Homo sapiens: one gene and its partners. The protein of the gene in region 2 interacts with the protein of the main gene of each other region in a pairwise test. Each region holds a gene or a part of one and is shown on either strand. Other genes may lie near its edges. The genes, in order: CHCHD3, SPAG5, ZMAT2 and NEBL.

What was found.
Region 1: the proteins of SPAG5 (region 2) and CHCHD3 interact in binary tests that used the Homo sapiens proteins (3 or more experiments, as listed by UniProt).
Region 3: the proteins of SPAG5 (region 2) and ZMAT2 interact in binary tests that used the Homo sapiens proteins (3 or more experiments, as listed by UniProt).
Region 4: the proteins of SPAG5 (region 2) and NEBL interact in binary tests that used the Homo sapiens proteins (3 or more experiments, as listed by UniProt).

Annotation. Positions count from the first base shown.
Region 1 is NC_000007.14:133,072,081-133,079,102, forward strand, and holds part of CHCHD3 (MICOS complex subunit MIC19), read right to left. Parts: intron 1-7,022. UniProt on the Homo sapiens protein: Component of the MICOS complex, a large protein complex of the mitochondrial inner membrane that plays crucial roles in the maintenance of crista junctions, inner membrane architecture, and formation of contact sites to the outer membrane.
Region 2 is NC_000017.11:28,589,019-28,596,040, forward strand, and holds part of SPAG5 (sperm-associated antigen 5), read right to left. Parts: intron 4,049-7,022; coding exon 2,964-4,048; intron 2,855-2,963; coding exon 2,680-2,854; intron 1-2,679. UniProt on the Homo sapiens protein: Essential component of the mitotic spindle required for normal chromosome segregation and progression into anaphase. Required for chromosome alignment, normal timing of sister chromatid segregation, and maintenance of spindle pole architecture.
Region 3 is NC_000005.10:140,695,456-140,703,455, reverse strand, and holds the start of ZMAT2 (zinc finger matrin-type protein 2), read right to left. Parts: upstream 3,010-8,000; 5' UTR 2,996-3,009; coding exon 2,978-2,995; intron 2,638-2,977; coding exon 2,544-2,637; intron 1,451-2,543; coding exon 1,327-1,450; intron 1-1,326. Other genes in the region: HARS2 (histidine--tRNA ligase, mitochondrial isoform 4 precursor), read right to left, coding at 4,904-4,963, 5,378-5,524, 5,771-5,887, 6,050-6,292, 6,386-6,513, 6,842-6,935, 7,255-7,353, 7,611-7,718 and 1 more. UniProt on the Homo sapiens protein: Involved in pre-mRNA splicing as a component of the spliceosome.
Region 4 is NC_000010.11:20,894,297-20,901,644, forward strand, and holds the start of NEBL (nebulette), read right to left. Parts: upstream 3,016-7,348; 5' UTR 2,910-3,015; coding exon 2,829-2,909; intron 2,734-2,828; coding exon 2,662-2,733; intron 1-2,661. UniProt on the Homo sapiens protein: Binds to actin and plays an important role in the assembly of the Z-disk. May functionally link sarcomeric actin to the desmin intermediate filaments in the heart muscle sarcomeres.

The DNA of each region.
Region 1 (7,022 bases), on a different chromosome or scaffold from region 2:
GATCACTTGAGCCCAGGAGGTCAAGGCTGCAATGAGCCATGATCATGCCACTGTGCTCCAGCTTGGGCAACAGAGCAAGACCCTATCTAGAAAAAAAAAAAAAAAGTGTTGGAATGTAAACTTAAAATGGATGAATTTCATGGCATGTAAATTACTCTACAACAATTTACTTTAATAAACTTTAAAAAAAAAAAGCTATTATGGTAATCCAGGGGAGAACACACTTAAAAGGTATTTAGGATTTAAAATACTAACATTCACTGAGTGCTTATTATGTGCCAGGCGCTACACTAAGCTAGGCACTTCACTTATTTACTCCTTCACAGGCCTATGAGATAGATACTTTTGTATCTCTATTTTATAGGTGAAAAAACTGAAGCATAGCCGGATTAAATAACTGGCCCTGGATCAGATACTTTATCAGTAGCAGAGGAAGGATTCAAACCCAAAAAGTCTGAGTCTCAAGATCCCACTCAAGGCCAGGCATGGTGGCTCGCATCTGTAATCCCTGCACTTTAGGAGGCCGAGGTGGGCGGATCACGAGGTCAGGAGATCGAGACCATCCTGGCTAACATGGTGAAACCCCATCTCTACTAAAAATACAAAAAATTAGCTGGGCGTGGTGGCGGGCGCCTGTAGTCCCAGCTACTCAGGAGGCTGAGGCAGGAGAATGGCGTGAACCCGGGAGGCAGAGCTTGCAGTGAGATCGCGCCACAGCCTGGGCAACAGAGTGAGACTCCGTCTCAAAAAAAAAAAAAAAAGATCCCACTCAAACATCCCTCAGCATCACTACCCAGTATCTGAGTAGATGTGGGAGTAAAGCAGAAGTCATCAAGGAAGACCCCAGGATTTCCATTTCAAGTAACTGAGTGATCCTCCTCCTGTATCAAGGGTCTCCTTCCCATTTCCACTTCCTGAACTCACCACTCTCTGGCTTTTACCCTCAGTGCAACAGTGAACATTCTCTGGTAGAAGTCACCAATGACCAAATAAATAACTTTTGATATTTATGTAAATAAATATTTTATATTTATAAAATGCCTTATTTATATGGCTTCCCTTTAGCATCTAACACCTCTGGCCACTCCCGTCTTCTGGAAAGCCCTCCCTTGGCTTTTCTGACATCCTGCTGTCCTGGTTCTCCTAGGACTCTGGCCACATTTTATCTCTTTTGCAGCTTCCCCTCTCCTGCCTGCACTTCAATGCTGAAGGGCCCTTCTCATTCTATGTGCCCTTGTACTGGCACTCTCATCCAATCTCTTGATTTCTAACTGTTGTTGATAAACTAATAAATTCCATTAATAAATGCATTCACTCGAGCTTAAGACCTATCTCTCAGAAGCCCGGTCTCCACACTGAAGTGCCTAATGAACACCTTCCTTCTGGCAAACCAGAAGCACCTCACACCCAAAGTGTCCAAAATTGATCTCACGTTTGCCGCATATCTCCTCTTTCTCCTGCCTTCCTTACCTCATTAATGACACCACCAACACCCAGCTTCCTAAATTCAAACATAGGGCTTGTTCTTAACTCTTCTTTCTCTCTCATTCTTAGCTCTGACTTCATCAATCCCTAAATATTTAATGAATTCCTCTCTTCTCTCATCCCATTTCTCCTGCCCTAATTCCTGTACCATCCGCTTAAAATGCAAATGTGATAATGGTAACTCCCTACTTCAAATTCTTCAATAGCTACTGTCTGTTTACAGAAAAATTCAAATTCTTTGTACAGCATTCAAGACTTCATCATTTGGTGATGGCCTAACTCTCCAACCTCAAATTCTACAGTTTTTTTCCTTAATATTACATATCCTGTTCTACGTCCATCTCCTTGCCTTTACACACGCCTACATTGCCCTCTCTCCTGTACCATTGGGAGGGAGTCACCTTTCAAGACGCAGTCTAAACATCCAAGCCTTCACTGACCAAAACAGTTGTCCACTCCATTCCAACCCTGCCTACCTAAAGCTACCATTCCTTGTGCCTGCTGTTCCTTTCTCAAACTTCCAATACAGTCTCAATGAAAGAACAGGAATTAGCCTTTCCACATTCACCTTTCTGCCTTTCCACTAGATTGCAAGCTCCTATATATTAAGTCATTCATTCAACAAATGTCTCCCAGGCCAGGCACTAATCAAGGCCCTGTGATACATCAGTGAACTAAATAGTCTATACCTCAACTGTTACTTGTATCTCAGGGCCCAAACCAGAATGGAAATAAGATGGAAAAGGGAAAGGCTACAGATCAAATGCTGTGTGTGCTCTTTGAAGGAAAAAACTACGACTCCCTTCTTGGAAGACAAGAAGACTTTCTATTTGAAAATGCCAGAGCCAGCTGCATCCTTCTAACAACTGACAGCCACTGGGAATGTTGCTGAAACCCATCTGAGAAACTGAGAAACTGAGACACATCCTAGAAAAATCCCCGTAAGACTGACTCAATTTATACTTGAGAAAAAAAAGAGACCCTGAGTAATATTCAGTTACTGGCAGCATCAAGACCAGAAGCAGTAATTCCCCAATCTCTAGTCCAATGCTCTACTTTTAATAACACACCCCTTCAATCCCATGCATGTAATAAAAATATCACTTCCTCTTAAAGAGGAAAAAATAAGCTTACATTTTTAGAATCTTAAAGCTATTTTAACTGATATATAATATATATAAATCTCAAAAATCAAGTGTTAGCTATAAGCTTTCATCTGAAAAGTTACTATTTTCATCTGAAAAAAATGAAAATAATGTTTACCCCAGAGATTCTGTGGAGGGATTTTAGTGTTTTGCACCATAAACTACAATTGGCTACACAAATATTTGGTAAAGCTATTACCCATATAGCTCCAACCACAGGGACTTTTTAATTCATTTTGGTTCATTTTTATCAACTGGGTCTGAGCTTGTACTGACTCGTTCTCTGTAAGGTGCATGAGGACCAGGCCTGCAGCTATTGCAAGCAGCAGCTGCCTAAGTCCTGGTATGGGTATAGAAGGTGCTTATTTTTCTCTATCTATGCTCTCTAGGTAGTAGGAGTAGAATGTCTCTTTCAACCTAATCACTAATTTCTTGTTAACTTTTTTTTCTTTTTGAGGCCTCTCTGATGTCCCAAGTTGCTACTTAATGTCAAATTCTCACATCAATTCAAAACATTTCCCAGTGGGATGTTTGGTTATAGTTCAGTAAACTTGTAAGCATGCACCAAAGGAGTATATACTAAACCTATTGAAGGCTTGATAAACATATTGTACGGCTGCCTTATTGAGACTCCACCTTTCTCTTGTTCTTACAATCATTCAACAACTGTATCCTTAGGCCCTTCCAAAGCAGCACCCATGGCCATCTACTGTTGCACCTCTGCCAACTCCAAGCACTATTACCCTATTCCCAGTCTGCTCATAGCGACGTAGATATGAGGTAATAGTTTTGTTGTGTTATCATCTGTATCCAAAGTTAATGCTCTCTGAGCTGACCTTCCCATTGCAGTAGTAAGTTCAGACCTGCACACTCACCTGATCTCCTCTGTGAACAGGGGTACTCACTCGTGAAGCAGCTGACAAGCTTTAGAGATGCTGGCCAGGATTATACACGCAATCTGTAGCTGCAGAACAACTCATCTTTCTGATAAAAAATGACCCAAAATGGGGGTCGATAGTACAACACAAGCTTCTGCGATGGCAGCCTCTGTGTAAGAAGTATCTTGCGGTCAGGTGTGGTGGCTCACGCCTATAATCCCAGCACTTTGGGAGGCCAAGGCAGGCAGATCATGAGGTCAGAAGATCAAGGCCATCCTGGCTAACACGGTGAAACCCCATCTCTACTAAAAATATAAAAAATTAGCCAGGTATGGTGGTGGGTGCCTGTAGTCCCAGCTACTTGGGAAGCTGAAGTAGGAAAATCGCTTGAACCCAGAAGGTGGAGGTTGCAATGAGCCGAGATCGCACCACTGCACTCCAGCATGGGCAAGAGAATGAGATTCTATCTCAAAAAAAAAAAAAAAAAAAAAAAAAGTATCTTCTTCAGGAAACATATCTTTTCCTGAACCGGGCACTTGTTTAAGCAAAGCCTTTTCCTGTACAATGACCTATACCTATTATACTTGCTTTCCAGACATCTCTGGAATCTGCATCAAGGCAAATACCAAGGGCAATTTACAGAAATTATTTGTAGCAAAGAATAGTGAAATAATCCCCACACACATTGATACTGGGAATTACACCCTGAGGTCCACAGACTGAGTAGTCCGTGGGTCAATTACTCAACTGTATGCAAAACTGTCTGCTTATTGCATGGTTCTGGCCAGAATCCACAGCTTACAGATCCACAGTGCTCTATGAACTAAAAGAGCCACCATTCTAATATAAGGGGCAATCAAAAGAAGCAGGTCTGCCGATATTCAGCCCACTGAACTTGACTGTCCACCCTATTCTCTATTGCTCCTAAAGACAAATTTAAGCAAACAGAGCTTGCCAAGTTTAAATTTGTGGTACTCACCACACCAATGTGCTCCACAGAGGGGGAAAGGCCATGTGTCATCTCCTACAGTCTTCCCACTCATCTCTTCCTACCCACCTTGTTTGGTCTTATCCAAAATCCGTGCCAGAAACACTACCCACCAATCCAAAAGAAAGAATTTTCTCAGAAACAGGAGACTGGGTGAGTTGGACAAAGAGAAAGTATTTCTACTCCCAGGTAACAGAGTAAAAAAAGAGGAATTCTTCAGTGGCCCTTCTAAGAGGTAAAGTTATGAGCCACATGAGACAAATAAATCAGCCTCCTGCCTCCATTAGTTTATCTTATCTTCTTCCAGATGTGTCCTAGCAAATTGATTCAAGAACTCAGACCCATTTTTTCTCTCTTGATCCTCCTTCCACTTAGCATAGGTCATTTTCTGTGTGAGTATTAGTTTGCTTCACAATTACCTTTTTAAGACATAGGCTCCAAAAACTGCCATTATTATTTGGGAGAAATTACTCCCAAATAGTTAGTTAAGAGAAAGGGGGAGAGGGAACCCATATATATGTTGATAGATATATATGAAATATGTAATGCTTAGCTTATGTCTGTGTTTCTTTACATTTGTCATTAGTAGAAACCATTATCCCTACCTTTATAAAATCCTAGATAACTTAAGATGGTAGCCAAAAACTTCATAGAATCTAAAGCTGAAAGAAACTAATCATCCACTACTTAACTAAATTTGCACAACATTCCTCAACACTCCCAAGGGCTGACCGAATTTGTAGTCTCTGATAACATACTCTCTTCAGAATCCTCAGTAATACCGCATATTAAGTAATCTCTTCATTTACGGTCTCTCAACTGCCAACACTTCCCAAAGCATGAGTTACGTTCCATATTAAGTATCCATACTGCCATAACTGGCTCCTGTGAATTTCAGCTTGCAACTTTAAAGCCCAGCTGCGGACATTCGTTTATGTCTGGAAAGCATGATAAATATATCTTTGAAAATGATACTCATTGAAGTTGACATTTGCTCCAGAAGAGTTCACTCACAGCTTTGATGTTTCAGATAAACTTGCGAAAGATAGAGTTGTAAGCACACTTTCCAAGCAGGCACAGCAGGTGCTCACAAAAATCCTATCAACCACATGTAATATGAGTAATGAAAATGCTTGGTCTTTCCTCTCTAGGAATTTATTTTAGCCTTGAGAAGAGGGCAAGGCAAAAGAGTGACCTCTCATCCAATCCATAAGAGTAGTTTCAGATTCAAAGTTGGAATCAGGTGTAAAAATATAGGTTACTTTTACAGAAGAGGGAAGAAAAGCTATCAGTTGCTAAGGATAAAGGGAAAAAACAAGACCCTACAATACCATGAAAAATAACACCTGGTAGGTGAGAAGAAATTTTAAACTTAAAATTTGAAGTAGGTCCTTTCATTGCTATTAAGGACCTCAACAATATAGAGAAACACAATCTATTAATAAATTCAGCCAGGTGTGGAGGCTCACACCTGTAATCCCAGCACTTTGGGAGGCTGAGGTGGGTAGATCACTTGAGGTCAGGAGTTTGAGACCAGCCTGGCCAACATGGTGAAACCCCCCTCTACTAAACATACAAAAAAGTTAGCAGGGCATGGTGGCACAGGCCTATAATCCTGGCTACTCAGGAGGCTGAAGCAGGAGAATCACTTGAACCTGGGAGGCAGAGGTTGCAGCAAGCTGAGATCATGCCACTGCCCTCCAGCCTGGGTGACAGAGCAAGACTCGTCTCAAATAAATAAATAAATATTCAGCATAGTTACCAAAAGCCTTATGTTGTTCACTAAATGTTATTCTTTATACATTAAGATAAATGATGACTGAGCCTGGTGGAGCGGCACATGCCCGTAGTCCCAGAGGCTGGGGCAGGAGGATAGCTTGAGCCCAGGAGTTGAGACCAGCTTGGGCAACACAGGGAGACTCCAACTCAAAAAAACCTCATAATTGCCAACATATTTATATTAAGGGAATGAACCCAAGTCATTATATGAAAAAAATAAAGGAAGATGAAATTATAGATGCTCCTTGGTTTACAACGGATTTTGCTGAAGGTAATGCCAGAAGCTGAGTTTACTGAACGCTTGTCACTTCCACACCACTGTCAAAAAATCCTAAGTCGAACCATCCTAACAGGAGACCGTCTGTACTATCTTTAACAGTGTAACAGAACACAGAATTAGCTTTCCAGCAGTGACTGCCTCTGTTGAATTAGTAAGCTTGGTAAACTTTCATTTCTTACAACCAATGACATAAATGCTAGACAACTGGTCAAAGTTGGAACGTTTTCTTCAGCCAAGCTGAACTAACCTAACTGCAGTTCAAAACTGAAGTTTGGTGCCTCATCGGCACCATGTTCTAACAAACTAAGCTAAAAACAATGGCTTATGGACATACTGAGAATGCGGTTTCTTATCCTTCCCCATGTCTCAGAAGGGAACAAAGTGACTATTTAAAGCCAAGAAAAATATAAAGAAATAAAAACCATCTACAACAGACCTAGACAAAAAAACACCCTCAATTAGGGCAG
Region 2 (7,022 bases):
TGCAAAAACTAAGTACCCTTAAGTTTAAATTGTTGCAAAGGCTGTAATGTCCAGCATATTACCAATATTGACAATTTAAAATAATTTTTTTTTTTTTTGAGACAGAGTCTTACTCTATCCTCCAGGCTGGAGTGCAGTGGCGCGATCTTGGCTCACTGCAACCTCTGCCTCCCGGGTTCAAGCGATTCTCATGCCTCAGCCTCCCAAGTAGCTGGAATTACAGGTGCCCTCCACCACACCCAGCTAATTTTTGTATTTTTAGTAAAGACGGGGTTTCGCCATGTTGGCCAGGCTGGTCTTGAACTCCTGACCTCAGGTGATCCTCCCGCCTCGGCCTCCCAAAGTGTTGGGATTACAGGTATGAGCCACCATGCCCAGCCTAAAATAAAATTATTAGATTACTCTTAAATATATCCAGTGGCATAAATACTACATACACCAAAATGATGAGATACCTAGTTGCTATCTTTTAAAAATACAAGAAAAAGCTCTTCTTAGCAGTCAGAAATTTTATTATGTCATCCCTTTTTCTCTTTGAACATATATTTTTTATTTTTCTCAGAATTTCAGCCTAATGTAATATATTTTTATGCTTTAAAGTATGTTATTAGCTGGGCACAGTGGCTCACACCTGTAATCCCAGTGCTTTGGGAGGCAAAGGCTAGCAGATCACTTGAGCCCAGGGGTTTGAGAACAGCCTGGCCAACATAGCAAAACCCCATCTCTACTAAAAATACAAAAAAATTAGGTAGGTGTGGTGGCATACACCTACAGTCCTAGCTACCCAGGAGGCTGAGGTGGGAGGATCACCTGAGCCAAGGAAGCTGAGGCTTCAGTGAGCCCTGATCGCAACATGGTACTCTAGCCTGGGTGACAGACCAAGAAACTATCTCAAAAAATAAAAATAAAATCTGTTATTAACCATCATCTCTGCAACAACAATGAAAGTTCATCTAAATTTAAATTAAAATTTCCTTTAAATTCCTTTGACCGGAAGGCTTTAAAGTGAAAAAGCTTTCTTTAGGATAGAGAAATCTTTTAATCAGTTGTATATTAGTCACTGTAATATAATTTCTAATAAAATAAACATGCTCGGCAAAATTTAATTGGGAATCACCTATTAATGAAATCGATGGAGATTCCTTCCCCTTATTAGTTCGTATATCTGTGGATTACTATAATTCCAGCAATAAGAAATAGTTCAGCAACAATTCGTGACTCTGTTTTTTGAGGCAGGGTCTGGCTCTGTTGCCCAGGCTGGAGTGCAGTGTCAAGATCTCAGTTCACTGCAGCCTTGAACTCCTAGCCTCAAGTGATCCTCCACCTCAGCCTTCCAAGTAGCTGGGACTACAGGCACACACCACCACACCCAGCTAATTTTTGTATTTTTTTGTAGAGATGAGGTTTCACCATACTTCTCAGGCTGGTCTTGAACTCCTGAGCTCAAGCGATCCTCCCACCTCACCCTCCCAAAGTACTGAGATTACAGGGGTGAGCCACTATGCCAGCTGACTCCTTTCCATTCTGACAGATGTAAACACTGAGAAATCTTCTTCACATAAACAACAGGGGCCAGGCGCAGTGGCTCACGCCTGTAATCCCAGCACTTTGGGAGGCTGAGGCAGGTGGATCATGAGGGCAGGAGTTCGAGACCAGCCTGGCCAACATAGTGAAACCCTGTCTCTACTAAAAATACAAAAATTAGCCGGGTGGGGTGGCATGCGCTTGTAGTCCCAGCTACTCAGGAGGCTGAGGCAGGAGAATCGCTTGAACCTGGGAGGCAGAGGTTGCAGTGAGCCGAGACCAGGCCATTGCACTCCAGCCTGGGTGACAGAGTGAGACTCCGTCTCAAAAAAAAAAAAAAAAAAAAAAAAACTAAAAGTATAATTGGATTGCTTGTAACACAAAGGATAAATGCTTGAGGGGACAGATACAGATACTCCATTTTCCATTTTCCATGATGTGATTATTGACCATCACATGCCTATATCAAAACATCTCATGGACTCCATGAATATATTTACCTAACTCTGTAACCACAAAAATTAAAAATTATTTTAAAAAATGTTTTAGGCTTATTCATAATTTTTCTTAAAATATTAAATATAGTCTACCAATGCAAAAAACGAAGAAAAAGAATACTTGTGGAAGATGATGATCTAAAAACCAATTCCTTTAAAAGTTTCCTTGCTTGCACTCCTTTGGAAAGTTCTGATGTACCCCAGGGGTAGAGTGACTACCCACAGCTTTAAGGGGATTTTCCAGATCCTCAGCTTTTTTGTTTTAAGAGACAGGGTTTCACTGTCTTGCCCATGATCATAGCTCACTGCAGCCTTAGCCTCCTGGGCTCAAATGATCCTCCTGCCTCAGCCTCCTGAGTAGTGAGGCATGCAAAACCATATCCAGCTGATTTTTTAAAAATCTTTTGTAGGGATGGGATCTCGCTGTGTTGCCCAAGCTGGTTTCAAATGCCTGGCCTCAAGCAGTCCTCCCACCTTGGCCTCCCAAAGCAGTGGGATTACAGGCATCAGCCATTGTGACTGCCCAGATTCTCAGCTTTTGCAAATGTTCTAAGTATAAGCCTGTGATAGGAGTCCCCTTTGCCCTCTGGCAGCTTCTCAGCTTAAATTCCAAGGATCCCCACTGGGATCCCTCAAGCTTTGAGAGGAACCTTCTTACCCCACTGTGAGATGTGTCAGTCTGTGTGCTACTGTCCTGGGTTTCTGGGTGAGGGACAGCCAGCTGGCTCTTCCAGTCCCGAAGCTGGCGGGAGAGAACCTCCAGAATGACAAGAGAGCTCAGCAGGTTATCTTCCAAGTCATGTCGAGACAAGGCAGTCAGATCTGGAGGCCGGCTGCAGCAGAAAGAGAAGAACATGACGAAAAGAAAAGGAGGGGAAGGGATGGGAGGGGAAGGTCCAGGGTAATGGAACTCACGAGGTGCAAGGACATAGGGGCGCTTACCCACACAGGAGCTGCTCTGTCTCAGAAGTACTGTGCTTGGTGCCAACCAGGCCTGTCTGGGATGTGTTTGTACTCTTTTCCTGTGGTGCTGAAGGAGTAAACCAAGTCCCCACCGAGCAAGTAGAGAAAGGGGTAGTGCCAATTGCAGCATCCCGAAGCATCGAGGGAAGGGATAAGCTTTGGCGGAGATTTTCCAGCATGACGGAGGTATTTACACCTTTTTCCAGCCAGGCCAGTGGGGACATCCAAGACTCTGTATCAGAGCCAAGAATCCTACCAACATCTTCTACTGCTGGGCCTGGAGCTTCTTGGGATTCCATTTCTACTAGATTTGGTGTCAGGCATGTGGACAGAATATCTTCCACACTTGAGACAAGTGCTTGATCTTCTGTTTCAGACTCCTTAGGATGTGTGGGAAACCTCATTTCTCTTTCCTCCATAGCTCCATGCTCTACAATTTCCTCCTCTGGGTCCACATGATTGACACGGAAATCTGCTGCCAAGGCAGTTGAAGGGGAAAGCCAGAGAACAGAGGAAGGCAAGAAGGCGTTACTTTCAGAAGGTACTAAGTCCTCACGCACAGCCTCAGTTCTACTGCTCAGGCTTTCCTTGGAGCAATGTAGTTGTTCAGAACAGGGATTTGGTGGAGACTCCTCTAAGAGATGGGACGGAGATTCCTGAAAGATAGGTTTCTCAGATACAGCAGCAACTTCTGAAAACCTGTCTCCCATGCAGGGTGCCACCTCCTCTCTCACCAGATCGTCTGTTCTCAAAGGTCCATTTAAAGATATGCTGTTTGTCTCTGCCATGGTATCTAAACGGGCCTCAAATATCATGTCTTGTTGCTGCCCCAGTGGAGATGGTACAAGGACGATGGTTTTAACCATATAATTGCCCAGTGGGTCTACTGCTTCCTCAGACGTTTTAGGAGTAGAGCTAATTTGGGGAATTGGATCTAGAGGCTGCTCATCTGATTCATGCTGACAAGTTTCTAGCCACTTTGAGGAATGACTGAAATGTTCTGAAGATAAGTCTGTCCTCTTGTTATTTACAAAATCCACTGGAGATGAGTTGTTGCTGCCTTCCTGCCAAAGGAAACAAAAGTAGTTGTCTAAGGCAGTCAATTCAGTTCCCGACATACAATTACAGGTGCAAGATAGTGCACTCAAAAAAGAAAAGAATTCTTACTACCTCTGCTTAGGTAAGAACTTGGCTAATCTTTGTTGCTCATATAGAGACCCAATAGTAGGGAAAGAAAAGCTGCTAAGCCATTTTGGGTCCTTCCAAGTGAACCAGCCTACATTATAAACAGGCTGAGAATATAGATCCATATCGTGGGCAGATGGTAGCTTGAAAGTGACCCCACTCATCTCCATTCTGAACTCTAACGCACTTCTAGATGAACAGATAGGAGGGGTCCATAGGGTGTGAGTGAAGGCTTAAGCTCTGTCAGAATCTAGAGTTGGTACAAGTTCTTCTCCCTCTCGGCTGGGCGCAGTGGCTCACGCCTGTAATCTCAGCATTTGGGAGGCCACAAGCAGGTGGATCGCTTGAGTTCAAACCTCATCTCTACTAAAAATACAAACATTAGCCGGGCATGGTGGTGCTGATGTGTGCCTGTAGTCCCAGCTACTCAGGAAGCTGAGGTGGGAGGATCACTGAAGCTCAGGGGGCAGAGGTTGCAGTGAGCCAAAATCGTGCCACTGCACTCCAGCCTGGGTGACAGAGCAAAACCCTGTCTCAAAAAAAAATAAATAAATAAATAAAAAAGGTAGACCCTAACAAAACAGAGCTGCTGGAAGACACAGATGATAATCTGAACAACAACAAAAAAAACGAGTACTTAAGCTTTAACTACAACATAAATACACACACAAAGACATTTTAGAAATAATAAATATTATTTTAAATAAAAAATGTCAGTAAAATGAATTGAAAGAGTAAATTATTAGAGTTGAAACTAGAATTACTGGCCTGGACAAGTGGAAGAAATATCTTAAAGCAAAGATAAAAATATAAAGAAATGTAAATCTGAAGAAAAAGCTAAGAGAATTAGAAGATAAACCCAGGATACCTAACAGTTAAATAAAAGAAATTCCAGAAGAGAACATATATACATGAGGCGCTGATTAACAAATATTAGAAGAAAACTACCCTAATGAAAGACCTGAGTTTGCACATTAAAATGGCTCACCAGTTTCTAAGCAGGACTGACTAGAAAAGATACATGCTAGACACATAATTATAAAATTTCTGTGCTACAATGAAGAAAAAACTATTCTGGAAGCTTTAGATAGAAAGTCCAATTATTTATTAAAAAAATAATCAAACAGACCGGGCGCAGTGGCTCACGCCTGTAATCCCAGCACTTTGGGAGGCTGAGGCGGGCGGATCACGAGGTCAGGAGATCGAGACCATCCTGGCTAACACGATGAAACCCCGTCTCTACTAAAAATACAAAAAATTAGCTGGCTGTGGTGGCGGGCACCTGTAGTCCCAGCTATTTGGGAGGCTGAGGCAGGAGAATGGCGTGAACCCGGGAGGTGGAGCTTGCAGTGAGCCAAGATCGTGACACTGCACTCCAGCCTGGGCAACAGAGCGAGACTCCGTCTCAAAAAATAATAATAATAATAATCAAACATATGAAATTTCTCATTTATATTAGTGGATGAAACAAAACCAAGGTTAGGTTAAAAAGGGCTTCTGATATTCTGGTACTGTCCTACTTACTGACCTGGGTATTAGTTACATGGATGTGTACTTTATAGTAATTTGTTATGCTGTTATGTTTTATTGTAATTTCATGTATCTTACTTTAATTTTGAAATTATTAAAAGGTATGATGGCTCACACCTGTAGTCCCAGCTATTCAGGAGGCTGAGGTGGGAGGACTGCTAGAGCTCAGGAGTTCAAGGTTGCAATAAGCCAAGATCACACCACTGCACTCTAGCCTGGGTAACAGAGCAAGACCCTGTCTCAAAAAAAAAAATAAAAAAGACAGGGCATGGTGGCTTACACCTGTAATCCCAGCACTTTGGGAGGCTGAGGCGGTCAGATCACAAGGTCAGGAGTTCGAGTGCAGCTGGGCCAACATGGTGAAACCCCATCTCTACTCAAAATACAAAAATTAGCTGGGCATGGTGGCGGGTGCCTGTAGTCCCAGCTACTCGGGAGGCTGAGGCAGGAGAATCGCTTGAATCTGGGAAGCAGAGGTTGCAGTGAGCCAAGATCGCGGCACTGCACTCCAATCTGGGCGATACAACAAGACTCCTTCTCAAAAAAAAAAAAAAAAAGACAATATAAAGATGAGTGTGTGTGTGTGTGTGTGCATATATACAAAATAGACACACATAAAGAGATGTATGAAAGAACTGTCAAATATGACATTTATCTAAGATACCAGAAATATTTCTTCCTTATACATTTATATATTCAAATGCTTCAAACAATTAATATCTATTAATAATCAAAAATTTACAAAACAGGCCAGGTGCAGTGGCCCACGCCTGTAATCCCAGCACTTTGGGAGGCCAAGGAGGGTGGATCACTTGAGGTCAAGAGTTTGAGACCAGCCTGGCCAATGTGGTGAAACCCCGCCTCTACTAAAAATACAAAAAATTAGCCAGGCATGGTGGCACGCGCCTGTAATCCCAGCTACTGGGGAGGCTGAAGCAGGAGAATTGCTTGAACCCGGGAAGCAGAGGTTGCAGTGAGCCGAGATCACACCACTGCACTCTAGCCTGGATGAAGGAGTGAGATCCTGTCTCAAAAAAAAAAAATTAGGCCGGGCGCGGTGGCTCACGCCCGTAATCCCAGCACTTTGGGAGGCTGAGGCAGGCAGATCACGAGGTCAGGAGTTCAAGACCAGCCTGACCCCCAACATGGTGAAACCCTGTCTCTACTAAAAATACAAAAATTACCTGGGCGTAGTGATACATGCCTGTAATCCCAGCTACTCAGGAGGCTGAGGCAAGAGAATTGCATGAACCTGGGAGGCGGAGGTTGCAGTGACCCTAGATGGCACCACTGCACTCCAGCCTGGGTGACAGAGCAAGACTC
Region 3 (8,000 bases), on a different chromosome or scaffold from region 2:
TCGAGACTAGCCTGACCAACACGGAGAAACCCCGTCTCTACTAAAAATACAAAAAAATCAGGTGGTGCATGCCTGTAATCCCAGCTACTTGGGAGGCTGAGGCAGGAGAATCGCTTGAACCCAGGAGGCGAGGCTGTGGTGAGCCGAGATCATACCATTGCATTTCATCCTGGGCAAGAAGAGTGAAACTCTGTCTCAGAAAAAAAAAAAAAAAGAAAAGAAAAAAGAAAAAGAAAAAAGAAAGGTCTATGGGGCAAAGAACTTAGGCTTCCAAACCACAGGCATGTGAGAGAGCTTGGAAGCAGATCTTCCAGCCCCACTTAAGATTCATATGAATGCAGACCTACCTTGCCAACTCCTTGATTGCAGCTTCATGAAGACCCTGAGCCAGAACCACCTAGGTAAGCCACTCCCAGATTCCTTACCCAAAGAAACTGTGAGTGGTGTAGTTTATGCTGCTAAGCTTTAGGTTAATTTGTTAATTTACATAACAATAGATAACTAATACAGACAGGAATGGACAACAGTGGGTTTACTAAGCAGCTCAGAGAAGTGTCACTCATTGCTATCTGTGTTGCTCTCCTGCCAGAAAACCTAACTGGACAGAGAAGCAGTGGGGGGCAAAAGGGTGACAAGCTCTTGTAGGACCCTTCTTCCTATAGGTTATAGTCTTGGAAGAAGGTGTACAATCAGGCATCCATAACAACTACAGCCTTTGCAGCTAGTCTGGAACCTCAAACCCCTCTTCTTCACCATTAACAACTCCTAGGCTCTATTCTAGCTCCACCTAATTTCTCTCCTAGAAATCTCCTCAGTAGTCCTTTCCTTCATTTCTTCTTCTGACAGATCAAATAATCCCTTTTAAAATATTAATAGTAAATCAGAATTGATAACAAGTACAATGGCAATAAAAAATTTAAAAACTATATTGAGTAGTAGCTGTAGTGCTCATAGTATGATTTTTGTTTGTTTTGGTTTTTTTAATTGAGACAGGGTCTCACTGTGTTACCCAGGCTGGTCTTGAATTCCTGGGCTCAAGCAATCCTCCTGCCTTGGCCTCCCAAAGTGCTGGGAATACAGGCGTGAGCCACTGTGCCCAGCCAATGCTAATAACATGAAGAAACCCACTGAGTGACCACTCCTAGAGACACTATCATGTCAACTTGAGACCTTGGGAGACACAGAAAAACAAATATAAAGATAGAATTACAGGCAAGAAGGACGTAATCCTGGGGCCAAGGACCTTCCTTAACACTTCCTAAAACCAAAATAGGTGGCTTATTAGATGCATTCTTGGCTGCAGAGGAAAAATGATAAGCAACTCACCCTCCCATCTCAGATTGAGGGGTTGTCTTGGTAATGACAATTGTCTTCCCAAGCTTGGATTCCAAGTCCACCTTGTAGTCCCTATGCCGTAAAAGCTCTCGCTTGACAGGCTGCACTGGTTTTCCTGAAACATAATGGGGAAGGAAGTCCCTTCAATATTATAGTTCCTCAACCAGAAAGGAAAAAAAATGCATGAAATCCAAAATTCAGGTCTTACTCATTTCAAAATCATTCCTGAAAGGACACAACAGACACTTAAAGTAGCAGCTGGGGAGAATCTCAACACAGGAAGAAATCATAAGCAATCCTCAACTCTACAGCTTTTCTCCACTTTAAAGCCAGCAAATCTAAAAACAGTATGTTTTATATTCATTGATTAACTGAATTGTGGGGGAGAATTTCTGAAGAATTACTAGAAGCAACTTTTTCAAAACGGGAGCAAGGACATTCAAGAATGCTTTCAGGCAGATACCCTAGGCATAACGGAAAGGAACCTTCTGAGAGCTGGGCAAATTTATAAAAGGGGACCAACATCTAGGAAATGCCTGTTACATGTCAAGCACTATTTATTTTACATGTTACATAAAAAATGAAAGAGTTAGTGAGTGCAAGGTGGCCTGGAGGTAAAGGGAAAGAAGAATGTACACGTTTGAAACAGATGACAAAATAAAACATTTCTTTATGCAATCTCTTAAACAGGAGAGAAGCACCAACTCCCTGATGTACAAGGCACAGAGAAACAGCACTACTAAGCTCTAGCTGAAACAATCACAGATCCTGCAAAGTTCCCCGGCTTTTCTCAGACTATATGGGAGGGTCTTGATTGGGCCAGGAATGTTCTCTCCCTTAAGAAATTTCAAGGGAAAGAGGGGGGTCACTGATAGCGGTAATGCACAGCAGCAAAATACTCTACTTAACTTCTCTGTCACTACTAAGGATGCCGTTATCTTCTCTGTACTTCAGGAAAGCATTAAACGAGCCAAGCAAAGGGTGGGCAAGGAAGCAGAGTGAAATAGAGCTGAAGAGCATCTCAAAACTACTTACTTCATCCCACCTCCTCGCTCTCATTTTGTAAATGCAGAAACCTAGGCCCAGGGAAGCAGCACTCTGCCAGAGCTTACACCGCGTGGGAAGGCAGCGCACTTCAACTCCCACCCGCTCTCCATCATCGCATCGCCTCTGTGATACCCTTAGCCCTTGATGTAGTTAGCACCCACCATCTTTCTTTTCTCTCTCTTCCGTGAGCCTCTTCTCGGCGAGTTTCTCATATTCATCTTTGTCCCACTTTCGGCGAAAGTCCAAGTTTTTTGTCTGTGGGGAGGAAAAAGCGTCAAGATCCGTCGCCGTGTCTGGGCCCCTAGAGAAGCAGGGAACCGCGCCCTCGCGGTCCAGGTGTCTACAGGACGTTTTGAAAGCAAAGCCTCTTTGGACTGTACGAGAAGACTGAGGTAGCCTCAAGACCCCAACCCGAGAAACCTCCGCGATTCTACTGACCCTCTGCCAAGGCCTATTACTGGGGAGTTCTTGAACCTGAACCCTGGGATCTCGAGGAGATATCGGGAAGCCAGTCGGGTGCAGGAGTTTGTCTCTATTCAGGTCTGAAAAACCATTCCCCACCCCGCAAAACCTCCTCCTCAGACACAACACCTACCCCGCTGCCCGACGCCATCTTCACAGCGAAGTGAATGGCGAGCTGAAAAACGCCGTAAAAAGCGGCTTGGAGCCGTAAGGCAAGATAGCCCTCCAATAAGCTTGGAGTCTTGTGTTCTAAACGAGCTAAGGACTGGAGGGTTTCTAAAACAGGCTTGTTGGCCCCGCCTCTGCTCCAAGGAGACAGCGCAGGCGCAAGAGGAGTATGAAGCAACACGGAAGTAAGGGCGCTTGCAATTGTTTTTTGCCTTGGATTTCAAAACAAGCATTAAAGGGTCAAGATTTAGTTCAACTATTTTACAAACAAGGAAACTGAGGTTCGCAAAACAGTGGTCTCTGATCTAGTCTAGCAACTTTGCGTCCACTGCCAAGAATTTCTAAACCTTTTTTAAGGCCGAAGCGCCATTAGGGGGTCTAGATGCCTCTCATTCACCTGCATGCACTAGGGATATGACCCTAAACTACACTGAAACGTTTGCAACAGAGGCACCCTTCCCGACGCACATATAAAAAGCATGTTTTGCACTTGGGCTCTTTTCCTTGAAGCAATGCTACCACCCTTTGGTTCACTTATTTTTCCATCATCTGGGGAACTTTATAGTAGAACATAATTTAATCAGCATAATTGGATTTGGAAAGGCCAGTCATCAACAACACTCTAGAGTGAAGCACTGTGGCATACCGGCTCACTATATGTTGATTTTTAGCAACAAAACTACCTCTTGGCCGGGCACAGTGGCTCATGCCTGTAATCCCAGCACTTTGGGAGGCTGAGGTGGGTGGATTATGAGGTCAGGAGTTTGAGACCAGCCTGGCCAAGATGGTGAAACCCTGTCTCTACTAAAAATACAAAAATTAGCTGGCTACTCGGGAGGCTGAAGCAGGAGAATCTCTTGAACCTGAGAGGCGGAGGTTGCAGTGAGCCGAGATCACGCCACTGCACTCTAGCCTGGGTGACAGAGCAAGACTCCGTCTAAAAACAAACAAACAAAAAAACTACCTCTTGAGGAGACAGGGAAAGAGGGAGAAACTGTGGCTGCTCATCACTGAATACAGAAGCATCATCCCAGGGAGGTTACTTCTACCTCACAGAATTCTCCAATGTACACTCAAGCATTTTCTATGGTCTATGCAAACAAAGCCCTTGATAACAATAACAAATTACCCAAACTACTACACTTAATATTTTATTTAACATGTTATCCAACCACTTCTAAAACAGCCTCCATGGCACGGTATGGAATAGAGCAGTGATTCTGGCACAGGAAATGGTCTCCAAAATCTCAAAATATCAGATCTCTACCTTGTCAAGTCATCTATTAAGTTCAATGTTCAAGATTATCAAGCATACAGCCCCACTCTTCTACTGTAAGCAATGGATGGGCTAGAGAGATGTCAAATCAACATGGGTACTGCCATGCCCTTAGGATAGCATCTGTCCTCAAAGCTGAAAGCAGCCATTGCCCCTCTTTGCTGTCTTCCAAAAACTCCCCAGACAGGCCAATGGCTGATTGTGGACAAATTCACCAGAATCTGGTTCCGTAGCTACAGTAGAAGGCTAAGTATCTGGTTTCTGATCTCAATGGTTCAGAATCCTGAGCCTGAGGTGACTCTCCCAGAGCCTTGCTCACAGCAACAATCTCACTACCTCTTGACAACGTTCCGTGGCACTTCAAATTTGCCTCTGCAGCTAGAGCATGTCTCTTTCACATCCAGCCATCTGCACCCATGCAGAATAGCTGCTCACACTAGCCCAGGAGTCCTCAGGGTCTTCTACAGTTCTGCACCCAGGAAGAATGGAGGAGGCAGAAGGTACTTGTCACCCTTCCTGGCTAGTTGTTGTGAAGTCCATCACTCAATTCCAGAGGAATTCAGTTCTAGAGGAAACCTTTTCTACAAAGAGCAGCAGATGGGAATCAGGCAAGGATCAAGACTCAGACAGTCGCTTCTGAATTTCAGCCACAAAATTTTCCCGTTTAATGGCCACCTGAAACATAAGAGAATCCTCATGTGATAAACTAGAAAGTGATACTAACTCCTTAGCCACTGTTTTTCCAGATTTGTTTTACTCTGCATCTTCTCCCATTACTTATACAACCAGAAAGGAGTAGTGTGGGTTGACCTGAAGAATGTATACCCTCAAGATGAAAGGGATTCAAACACCTGATCTATGTCTATTATGTTGATTAGTCTCAAAATACCCATTCGGATTTCATTTGTCTTTCTTCTGGCCACCCAGTCAATACTCACAGGCAGCAATGGTCATCTTGAGTGAGTGTTTGTTCATCTCTACCACTATTAACCATGAAGATAATTTCTCAGCCAGAAGATGCATATTTCTTACAGAATCTGGGAAAGGCAGAAATACTTCGTCCCTTCTATTTCTGCTGCCGCCACTCACCTCCTCTCTGCTGGCCACTGAACGGATCTTGATGACCCCTTCTTTCAGTTCTTGCTCACCAATAATGACCACCAGTGGAATGCCTGTGCTCTCACAATAGTGCAGCTGGGTTAATAGTTTGGGGTTGTTCTTGTATAGCATCTCTGCCTGAAAAGGATCAAGACAGAGTAAGGGACTTAGAAGTGAACACAGCAACAAACCTCAGGAACATGGATATCCAAGAAAGCCAGAGATAAGTGGCTAGTCCGCCTACCCTAAAAAGCCAATCTAGTAGCCAGTAGTAGCTAGCAGACTAAAAAGGTTTTGAGTTCCACCCCAGACATAAGATAGATATAGCCCTGGGTCCTAAATTCCACACATACCCAGATGGCTCAGATATCAGCTCCACCATACCTTGATTCCAGAATCCCAAAGCTCTGCAATAAGCTTCAACCGTTCTTGGAGAAAGTTCTTCTGTGGTGTGGCCACAAACACTTGAGTCTCTGTAGTCCGCACCTTCTCACCTTTGGTCTAATAAGAGAGAAGAAAGTAAAACTAATAAAAACCTCCTTTCCACCAGCAATTCCAAAAATCAAGACAAAAAGAATCATCAGAAAACCACTCCAACTACACCTCCAGAAACAGGAGGGTTTTTAGGTCTCCAGCCCCACCTCACACCTATCTAGGACCTACCTTCATCCTCTGCTCCACAATGTAGAAGATTCGCTCAACCCCAATGCTGAGTCCCACACATGGCACCTTGTGGCCCTTGGGGTCAAACATGCCCACCAGCCCATCATAGCGCCCACCAGCAGCCACACTGCCCACATTCAGGGGCTCCTCCCCAGCCTGAGTTGGGGTCTGCAGCAGCACTGCTTCATAGATCACTCCTGTATAGTAGTCTAGGCCCCGAGCCAGGCTGAGGTCAAAGGAGATCTGTGGGGACAAGATTACAGTCAGTCCCAAACTAGACTCGGGACCCTGAGAGCCCTAGAGCTCAGCAGGAGGTCCATTTGCAATTCAGCTTACCTTATCAGCAATTCCAAATAAAGTCAGGTATTCAAATAGCAGCTTTAGGTCTCCCAGGCCCTCCAGGGCCTGCTTGTTCTGGGATAGTCTGGGATCCTGAAACATTTGCTCTACTAGGGATACCCCACCTGGAGAGAAATAAAGTCTCTGCTGTTCACTCACATGTGTTTCATTCAAAATTATCCCTAATGTGCTCTAGCTAGTCTTCCTCATTTTCTTTAAAAAAAAAAAAAAAAAAAAAAGATCCCAGTCTCACATGACAAGACCCTCCTCCTTTGCCTCTAGCTTTGCCATCTGAAGACACAAAGTCGTTACAATAAGTAAAAGAGAAATTAAATTCAGGACAGGCCCTGGAGCTTAGCATATCTACAGAAAAGAGTTGTTTCAGAGGTAGAATTTGAGCACATGTCACCTTCAGCCTGGTTCTATCACAGCTCTGAAAACCCTGGTTCTTACCATGACACTGGACATAGTCCCCAATTCGATCAGCCACCTCAGGAGCCAGGCCTTTCTTCACCACCATCTCATGTCTCACATCTTTCCAAGCCATCTGCATAAACACCCAAACATTAGCCCAGCCCCAAGATCTTTCTTTCTCAAACTGAAAAAGGACAACTCAACTTCCATTCAGTATATACATCACAAGTAGCTAACTGTATACTCAGCAAAGTCAGAGACAGCTTAAGAAATCCAGTCACAATCCCCACTGTATAGCATGACTCAGATCTTCCTTCAGAGTATGCCTCCTTACCTTCCACCCCAAAATAGCCCACTTCCAGCCACAATCTCCTTATTTTTCACTAGTGGTATGGATTTGAGGGCAGGGCAGAAGCTAGATAGGGTCTACTGAAGTATGTCTTCTTTGTTACCTTGTCTAGTTTATCTATGGAGGAGCAGATGGCACGGAACTTGCTTTCAGGAACACCACAGACAGCAAACATCCCATCCACAATCCGCCGGTCATTTACCTGAGAACTCAATGTCAGTGACCCAAGTGCTTGTCAATGCCCTTCCACTCAAAACAATGGCAGTACCTACTTTCCTGACACACAAAAAGGATGGAAATTTCACAGGAAGAGTACAGACATATAGGAAATACAACAGCTTTACTAGGAAAGTCCTACAGTTGCAGGCTTAAGGGTTGGAGTCACCCAAGTTTGGGACTTGCATAAACAGTATTAGGCCAAATCCAGACTTCTCCCACAGTTCTCAGCCCTGGCCTCACCTTAATGAGAAAGTCTCCCAACTGCAATCCACTTAGGATTTCACACATGATCTTCAAACACTCTGCATCGGGGATCATAGGGTCAAACTGACCAGCAATGTCAAAATCCTACAGCAAAGAAAAAGATGGGAAAAAACATCCATTATCCAGCCAGTTTCAAGGTTGTGGCCCCTAGAACTATCAAACTGTGCTGCTCCCATCAGGTCACTTACACACTGGCAGAACTCCCTATAACGGCCTTGGACTATGGTTGGGCTCTCTCGCCGCCACACCTTTCCAACATGATAACGTTTCATCTTCTTCACCTTATTCATGGCCAGATAACGAGCAAAGGGAACCTCACATAAATGGGTTAAGGAAGAGGGATACTGCATCCAAAGATTAGGCCCA
Region 4 (7,348 bases), on a different chromosome or scaffold from region 2:
CCATCTCTACGAAAAAGAAAATGAAAATTAGCCAGGCATGGTAGCACACACCTGTAGTCCTAGCCACTTGGAAGGCTAAGGCTGGAGAATCACTTGAGCCCAGGAAATTGAGACTGCAGTGAGCTGCAGTCACATGACAGAACTCCAGCCTGGGCAACAGAGTGAGACTCTGTCCAGAAAAATAAAAAAGAAGAAGGAAGGAAGGAAAAAAAGGAAGAAAGAAAAGAAGAGAAAAAGGAAAAAAATCTAAAAATTAAATAAGTATCTTAGCAAGTATAGAATTCTATTCGGAAGCAAAATGTGAATGTGTATACAGATATAAATTAAGCCAGAATAGGCCGGGCATGGTGGCTCACGCCTGTAATCCCAGCACTTTGGGAGGCCGAGGCGGGCAGATCACGAGGTCTGGAGATCGAGTCCATCCTAACTAACACGGTGAAACCCCGTCTCTACTAAAAAAAAAAAAAAAAAAATACAAAAAAATTAGCCGGGCTTAGTGGCAGGCGCCTGTGGTCCCGGCTACTCGGGTGGCTGAGGCAGGAGAATGGCGTGAACCCAGGAGGCGGAGCTTGCAGTGAGCCGAGATCGTGCCACTGCCCTCCAGCCTGGGTGATAGAGCGAGACTCTGTCTAAAAAAAAAAAAAAAAAAAAAAATTAAGGCAGAATAATCATGTCCTAAATTTAAGTAGTACATTCTACCATGCCACAAAAATCTGTAATAAACAGAAAGTATGCCTATCTGTTTCATTTTACCTACGTGGGTGTGAAATGTATGGATTTAGCTTTTGCATAATGATAAAGGCCACCACCCCTCACAACATGTTGGTTTTAAAGTCACTGATAGACAATCTTATCCAAAACAACTCCAACCAAATCACCTACTAACTACAGTTACCACTTTAGTCCTGATGGTTTATGTAACACAAGTTAGCTCAGCTATAATTGCACTTCAATAAAAATATATCAAAGCTGGAAGAGGTTAGGAACTCAGGGTTTTAGTTGGTAGCATTACTACTAATAATAGTAACATAATAATAATAAGGCGAAGAACAACATTTCATGGAAATCTACAGGGAGAGATAACTTGGCAGTGTAAAGAGGGAGGCCTCTGTGTTCAACTATTACTGCCTCTGCTTAACTGTGTGACCCAGGCAAGGTACTGAACCTCTCTGTGCCTCTATCTCCTCGCTTCAGAAATGAGAAAAAGCCTAGCGCCTACCTCGCAAGCTGCAATCCCTGGCACACAATAGTCACTAAATCTTAACTGTTGCCAATAGTGTTATTGTTGTTGTTGTTGTCATTGTCACTTATTATTACTGCAATTTACAGAGAACTTTCACATACAATAGCTAATGACTATTAAGTAATAGCACAAAGAAATACTTAATTTAAAGGGTAATTACATCACATGTCAAGTATATGGGAAAGGGTATGATTTCCACCAGCATCCTTTGTGCTTGCCTTCTGGTTTGTCAGAAAGAGCCAGTCATATCTAAATTGTGATTGGATGGATGTAAAAGGAAGTAACAGACAGAGTAGTTAATAACAGCTAACATTTATGGAGTACTCACAATGTTCCAGATAGTTTATTCAGCATTTATATGCATTACCATTATTTAATCTTATTATAAATGTTACAGCTGAGGGATGGAGCCAAGCCAGGTTCCATAACCTTCCCAAGGTTACTGGGGAGTCAACCCAGGCAGGTTGACTTTGGAGGATGTGCCAGACCACTACCCTCCTGCCCAGGACTGACTTCCGTTAGAAAACAAACGTGCAAAACATTCTGATCATTTTGCTTATTATCAACAACAGAAACAACCAGTATTGTGCTCATCTCTCTAAATGAAGACACAGGCACATATTCACTTTACAGGAGTTACCCTTTCTCTGGACCAGCAATCCTCTTAGAACCGCTAATGAGGATCATCTAAATTCTCATCCCTGGTGAGCAACATTTTTCCTTGTACTTCTTGAATTCTAGCTTACATATTTAACATAAAATTATATGTTCAATCATTCAATAATTCTGGGATTCCCTTAAAGTGTAATATCAACCAATCCCAGTTACTAAAAAATGTCACAACAAAAATACCCCTTGCACTAATATCCTTGCACTAATATCAGGGTTCTTAGCAAGCAGGTCAGTAATCAACAAATCCTGAATTGTAAATAAATATTATATGCATATATATATATATATATATATATATATATATATGCATTTTCCTGTTCTGGAAGACAAGTCCATTCATTAGATTGTTCAGAAGGCCCCAAAATGTTAAAAAAATGACTATTCATTTAGATAGAGGGCCTCCCAAGACAAATTACATCATTATATTCATTTTAAAATCTTTGGGGGTTCTCAAATGGAATAAATACTGCAATTCAATGCCTTATGATTTCATGCCAGCGTGACAGCAAAACTCATAAGGGACAGGATTCTGGATTAAGAATGAGGAGACTTGCTCTAGCAGAAATTCTCTGTATAGGTGACCTTGGGGAAATCACTGAAAATTTCAGGACTTTGTTCCATGATCTGGAAAGTGACTGTGTTTTAAAAGGTGATTTCAGGGTTTCCCCCACAGCTCTATGACTCTATAACATAATAATACCACAGGTGCAATGCAAAATAAGACAAAAATTACTCCAGCCACTTACATCGCTAATGAGTTCCGTGCATTTTCTGGCCAATTCCATGCTTAAGTCTTCAATAACAGGCTTATAGAAGACCTATTTGAAAAAAAAGAAAAGAACAGAAAGAACATTTTTCTCATTGTCAATTTAGAGGAACAAACGCTGGTCTGAGTATGTGTTTTCTCACTCACCTGGTCTTCTTCATTTTCTTCTTCCCCTATCTTTTCTTCTTCAGTTTCATCTTTTATATCCTCAAATACAGGGACCCTCATTTTTACCCTTTAAAATATTTATATTTTTAAAATTTACTCATGTGGCGTCCTTTTCCATACCACAGTGCCCTTGAGATGCTGACGTCTCTGGTGCTCTGGCAGAAATGCCCTTGCCCAAGCCTCAGCCCTATTTAGCCCACACTTCACTCCTTATCTCAGTGGTGTGTGAGTGAACAGAAAAGGATCCCAGAGGTCTACCAGGCTGGCCTCACAAGTGGAAATAACATATTCTTAAGCAAAATTTGATTTTATGAACTTTTAAAGTCAACATTTTTTCCACTGGTTAAGAAATCCAAAAGAAAAAATTTATTTATCTTTTACTAATTCTATTCATTCATAAAAGAGCATAAAAAGGACTTAGAGATTCTGGGAAAACTACTCAGCTCTAACACTCAAGATAGCACAGTCCAAAGCCTGTTATCTCAAAGATTCCTTGTCTCTGTCTAAATAAAGCTTTCACTGGAATGTCAGACTTCCTTCTGACTTGGGGTAGTGAATCTGGATCATTCAAACTCATTTTGTCAACCTAAATTATATGTTTTATCAGACATACCAGTACTTCTCACATCCTAAAAAATACCCACTTTATATTAGCTGATTAGAGGCTACTTATTTATTATGAAAAGCCCTTTGAACCACTTCAAAGAATCTATTCTGAGTTAATTATGACTGTTAGTATTATACTGGCGAGTATGGTATTGTATTAATTGTAAACATCATTAAACATGAGAAGTTGCAGTTAACATATGTTGATACATAATTTAACAATTCTGGAAACATCGTTTCAAAAATCATCATCATCATCTTTGAATTCTGCAGTTCTACTCATCATGTCAATTTTTACAAAGTCATTGGTGATTTGCATTATTACTCAATGGGCACCCCACATTCAGAAAAGTTTGGAAAAATAAACCATCACAATATTTATAATGTAGTGTATGTCCTTGGTTACGTAAAACCAAGGTTAAAAAAAAATTTCTCAAAACAAATATTTTAATGTCAATTCAGGCAATTCCAAGACTCCCTACAACTCACAATTTATTAATCTGGTTATGTAAATCCTAGGGTAAATTAATTTTACCAAGTCATAGCACATTAGCATTGGGCATAAAAAATACCCTACACTGAATAGTAATACTGATGATACAAAATACAAATTTATTAAAAATAGTATGTCATTCTAAGTAGCCAAGCATAATTTTTTCTCTTGATATCATATCTAGTTTTCAATGTACTGTAAAAAAAAAATGCCTTGGCCTTACCTAAACTGAAAATCCTGACAAGAAAAACATTCTACACAGTCATCACGTATAAATTATTTCTGAAATTGTGTTCCATGAGGCAAAAGTTCCACAAAAGATTCTGGGGGAAAAAAGCAGGTTTCTTAAACAAATATGTTTGGGAAATCTGTACCCCAGTCTCTGTCCCTGCCACTTAGAGATCTACAAGGCATATTGACATACTAGAAGTTCTGAGAAGACCTTCAACCAAAAAACCTGCTTAGGCTTGCTTAACCTCGTGTTCCCCTGAACACAAACCTGTTTATCTCATCAAATCTAATCCAATTTAATCTAATCTACCTACCTACCTATCTACCTATCTTTTTTTTAATCATACCCACTACCCCAGAAAACTAACACTCCTCTGTGAAATATGACCGACTGCTTAGGGAAACATTGCTCTATTCTCCTAAAATGTTGTGTTCTAGAAGGAGCTGTTGGTCTTGAACTAGTTTTTGATACAGGCTAAATTAATGGTATCACATATCCTGTTCACCAACAAAATACCAAAAAGAAATTGCCTCAAGCATGCTGAACTTGGAAACCACAACTCTAAGATTACAGCCATATCATGCTGGCCCAGTGTAGTGGATTCCACAAGGACATTCCTTGTATATTTTATTTGTTCCGTAAAAGGAAAGAATGTGTGCATTCCAATTATTTCCCTCAAGTCCTCTGCTGGCCAGAAGACTATTCTAATATTCTATAGATCTATTACATTATCTTTATTTGGAAATAGGGAGGAGTAATTTCTGTAAACTTGTCTTGCAAATTTCTAGGAGTGTAGGGAGAAAATCTTGCCAAAACTGCCTGAGACACACCTTTTGGCTCATATTTGAGGAGACAGTACTGGTGTTACTCAGGGTGACACCTATTCCCCAAGGTGAATTACCTTCATCAGGCTTGCAGTGCAGTTATTTCTCATTTCCCATCACGTAATATGTTCTTAGGGACTCTTCACTGTGCTGCAAGAAAATAAGCTGTTGAGATTTAATGCACAAACTTTTGAAAACAAAAACCAAACACCACGTGCAATGTGAACACAAATTTTCCATTTGAGATTCTAGAATCAGAATTTCAAGCCAAAGGGATCCTTAAGAAATCAATACACCTAAAGCCCTCTCTTTCACAGATGACAAAATGAAGGCTATGAAAAATTATGTGTCTCATTTACAAAGCCATTCAATGAAGCACTAGGATCAGAACCTAACTAGAGACCTGTGTTCATTTGTTCAACAAATAAATGTTGTTATGCCAGGCACTGTGCTTGGTGTTAGAGATAGAATGGTGAATAAAATATTCTTCATACTAAGATAGAATTGGAAATAAAATACTCATCACTCAACACTTGCTGGATGAAGTCTTTAATGGATCGTTTGGCAAGCTAGAGACACCATTACTTTTGATTGAATACATCTTTTTTCCTCTCACCTATAATATAAAATTCATGCAAAGTTTTCTCTAAAAAAGTGTTAAGCCCTGCACTTCATCACAGCAAAGTTTTCTTGTCAGTAGCTCTAAAATATGACATGGAGAATATGAAGAAAGTGTTCCTCATGGACAGCTATCATGTTTCAAAATCCCCTATCGACTTTTCCAAAAACCAAGCTTAATGTATTTTAATAGATATTTTCACCTTGGGTTGCTCCAAAAGGCAAAATCTCTGTAGCTGCTCATAGCTTTTACTTATTGGGCACTTCTTTTATGTTGTTTACTTTTCTACTTTAGTACTCTACGCATGCCTTGATACAGAATGAGACCAAGAGACATCACTTATGGCTAAACTCTCAAAGTCCAGGTCTGGCTCTGCCATGTCCTCTAGGGCAAATTATTCAACCCCTCACTACCTCTAATTCTTCATAGTTAAACAGAAAAACTGAGTTGACAGAAGTTAATAAAAAGAAAGCACTGGCTGGGTGCGCAGTGGCACACGCCTGTAATCCCAGCACTTTGGGAGGCTGAGGCAGGCAGATCACAAGGTCAGGAGTTCGAGACCAGCCTGACCAACATGGTCAAACCCCGTCTCTAGTAAAAATAGAAAAATTAGCCGGGCATGGGCTGGGTGCGGTGGTTCACGCCTGTAATCCTAGCACTTCGGGAGGCCAAGGCAGGTGGATTGCTTGAGCTCAGGAGTTCGAGACCAGCCTAGGCAACATGGTGAAACCCCATCTCTACTAAAATACAAAAAAAAAAAAAAAATTAGCCGAGTGTGATGGCAGTAGATGGGATTACGCCTGTAATCCCAGCTACTAGGGAGGCTGAGACAGAAGAATCGCTTGAACTTGGGAGGCGTAGGTTGCAGTGAGCCAAGATCCTGCCACTGCACTCCAGCCTAGGTGACAGAGTGAGACTCCATCCCGAAAAAAAAAGAAAAAAGAAAAAAATTAGCCGGGCATGGTGGCACACACCTGTAATCTCAGCTACTCAGGAGGCCGAGGCAGGAGAATCACTTGACCCGGGAGGCGGAGGTTGCAGTGAGCCAAGATCGCGCCACTGCACTCCAGCCTGGGTGACAGAGCGAGACTCCCTCTTAAAAAAAATAAAAAGAAAAAGCACCTTAAAAATAGTGGAGCCCCTCACAAACACAAGCTTTTTTTCAACCACCAATAAAGGTACACAGTGATGTGAAAAACATTTGGCATGAAAAGGTCTTCTCATTCTCTGTGCCATTAATATCCTTTTAAAGTCAAGAAGGGCCTTCTGCAACTAGACAGCTTAAAGATAAGAGCTCACTTGCTTATTTATAATTCAGAAGTCTTCTGATCTTTTGATAGCTTGATGTTTACACGTAAGCAAATGTATTTCCTTAGCAACTGTCAGGTGGGTAATTCAAGTCTCAGAGACACAGCCGTGGCCAAGGGAACGTATCTGTGCCACCATCTGGAGTCGTGCAGTGCACAACTGTCTTCACCTTCCTTGAGGTCGCCTATGACAAGACTTTCTTGGTTTTTGACTGTTTCACACTTATTTCACTTTTTTCTCCTTTTTTTCATAATGATAGAACATGTACTTTTCCTCAACATGGTGATACATGATTTAAAAATAAAAATTTATAATAAACAATTAAAACAGATCCAAATTCAGTTCTGAGTGGGGGGAAAAAAGTACAGAGATAAACTGCTTTTCTTTTAACTTTAAAAATGAATTCAACATTTCTTA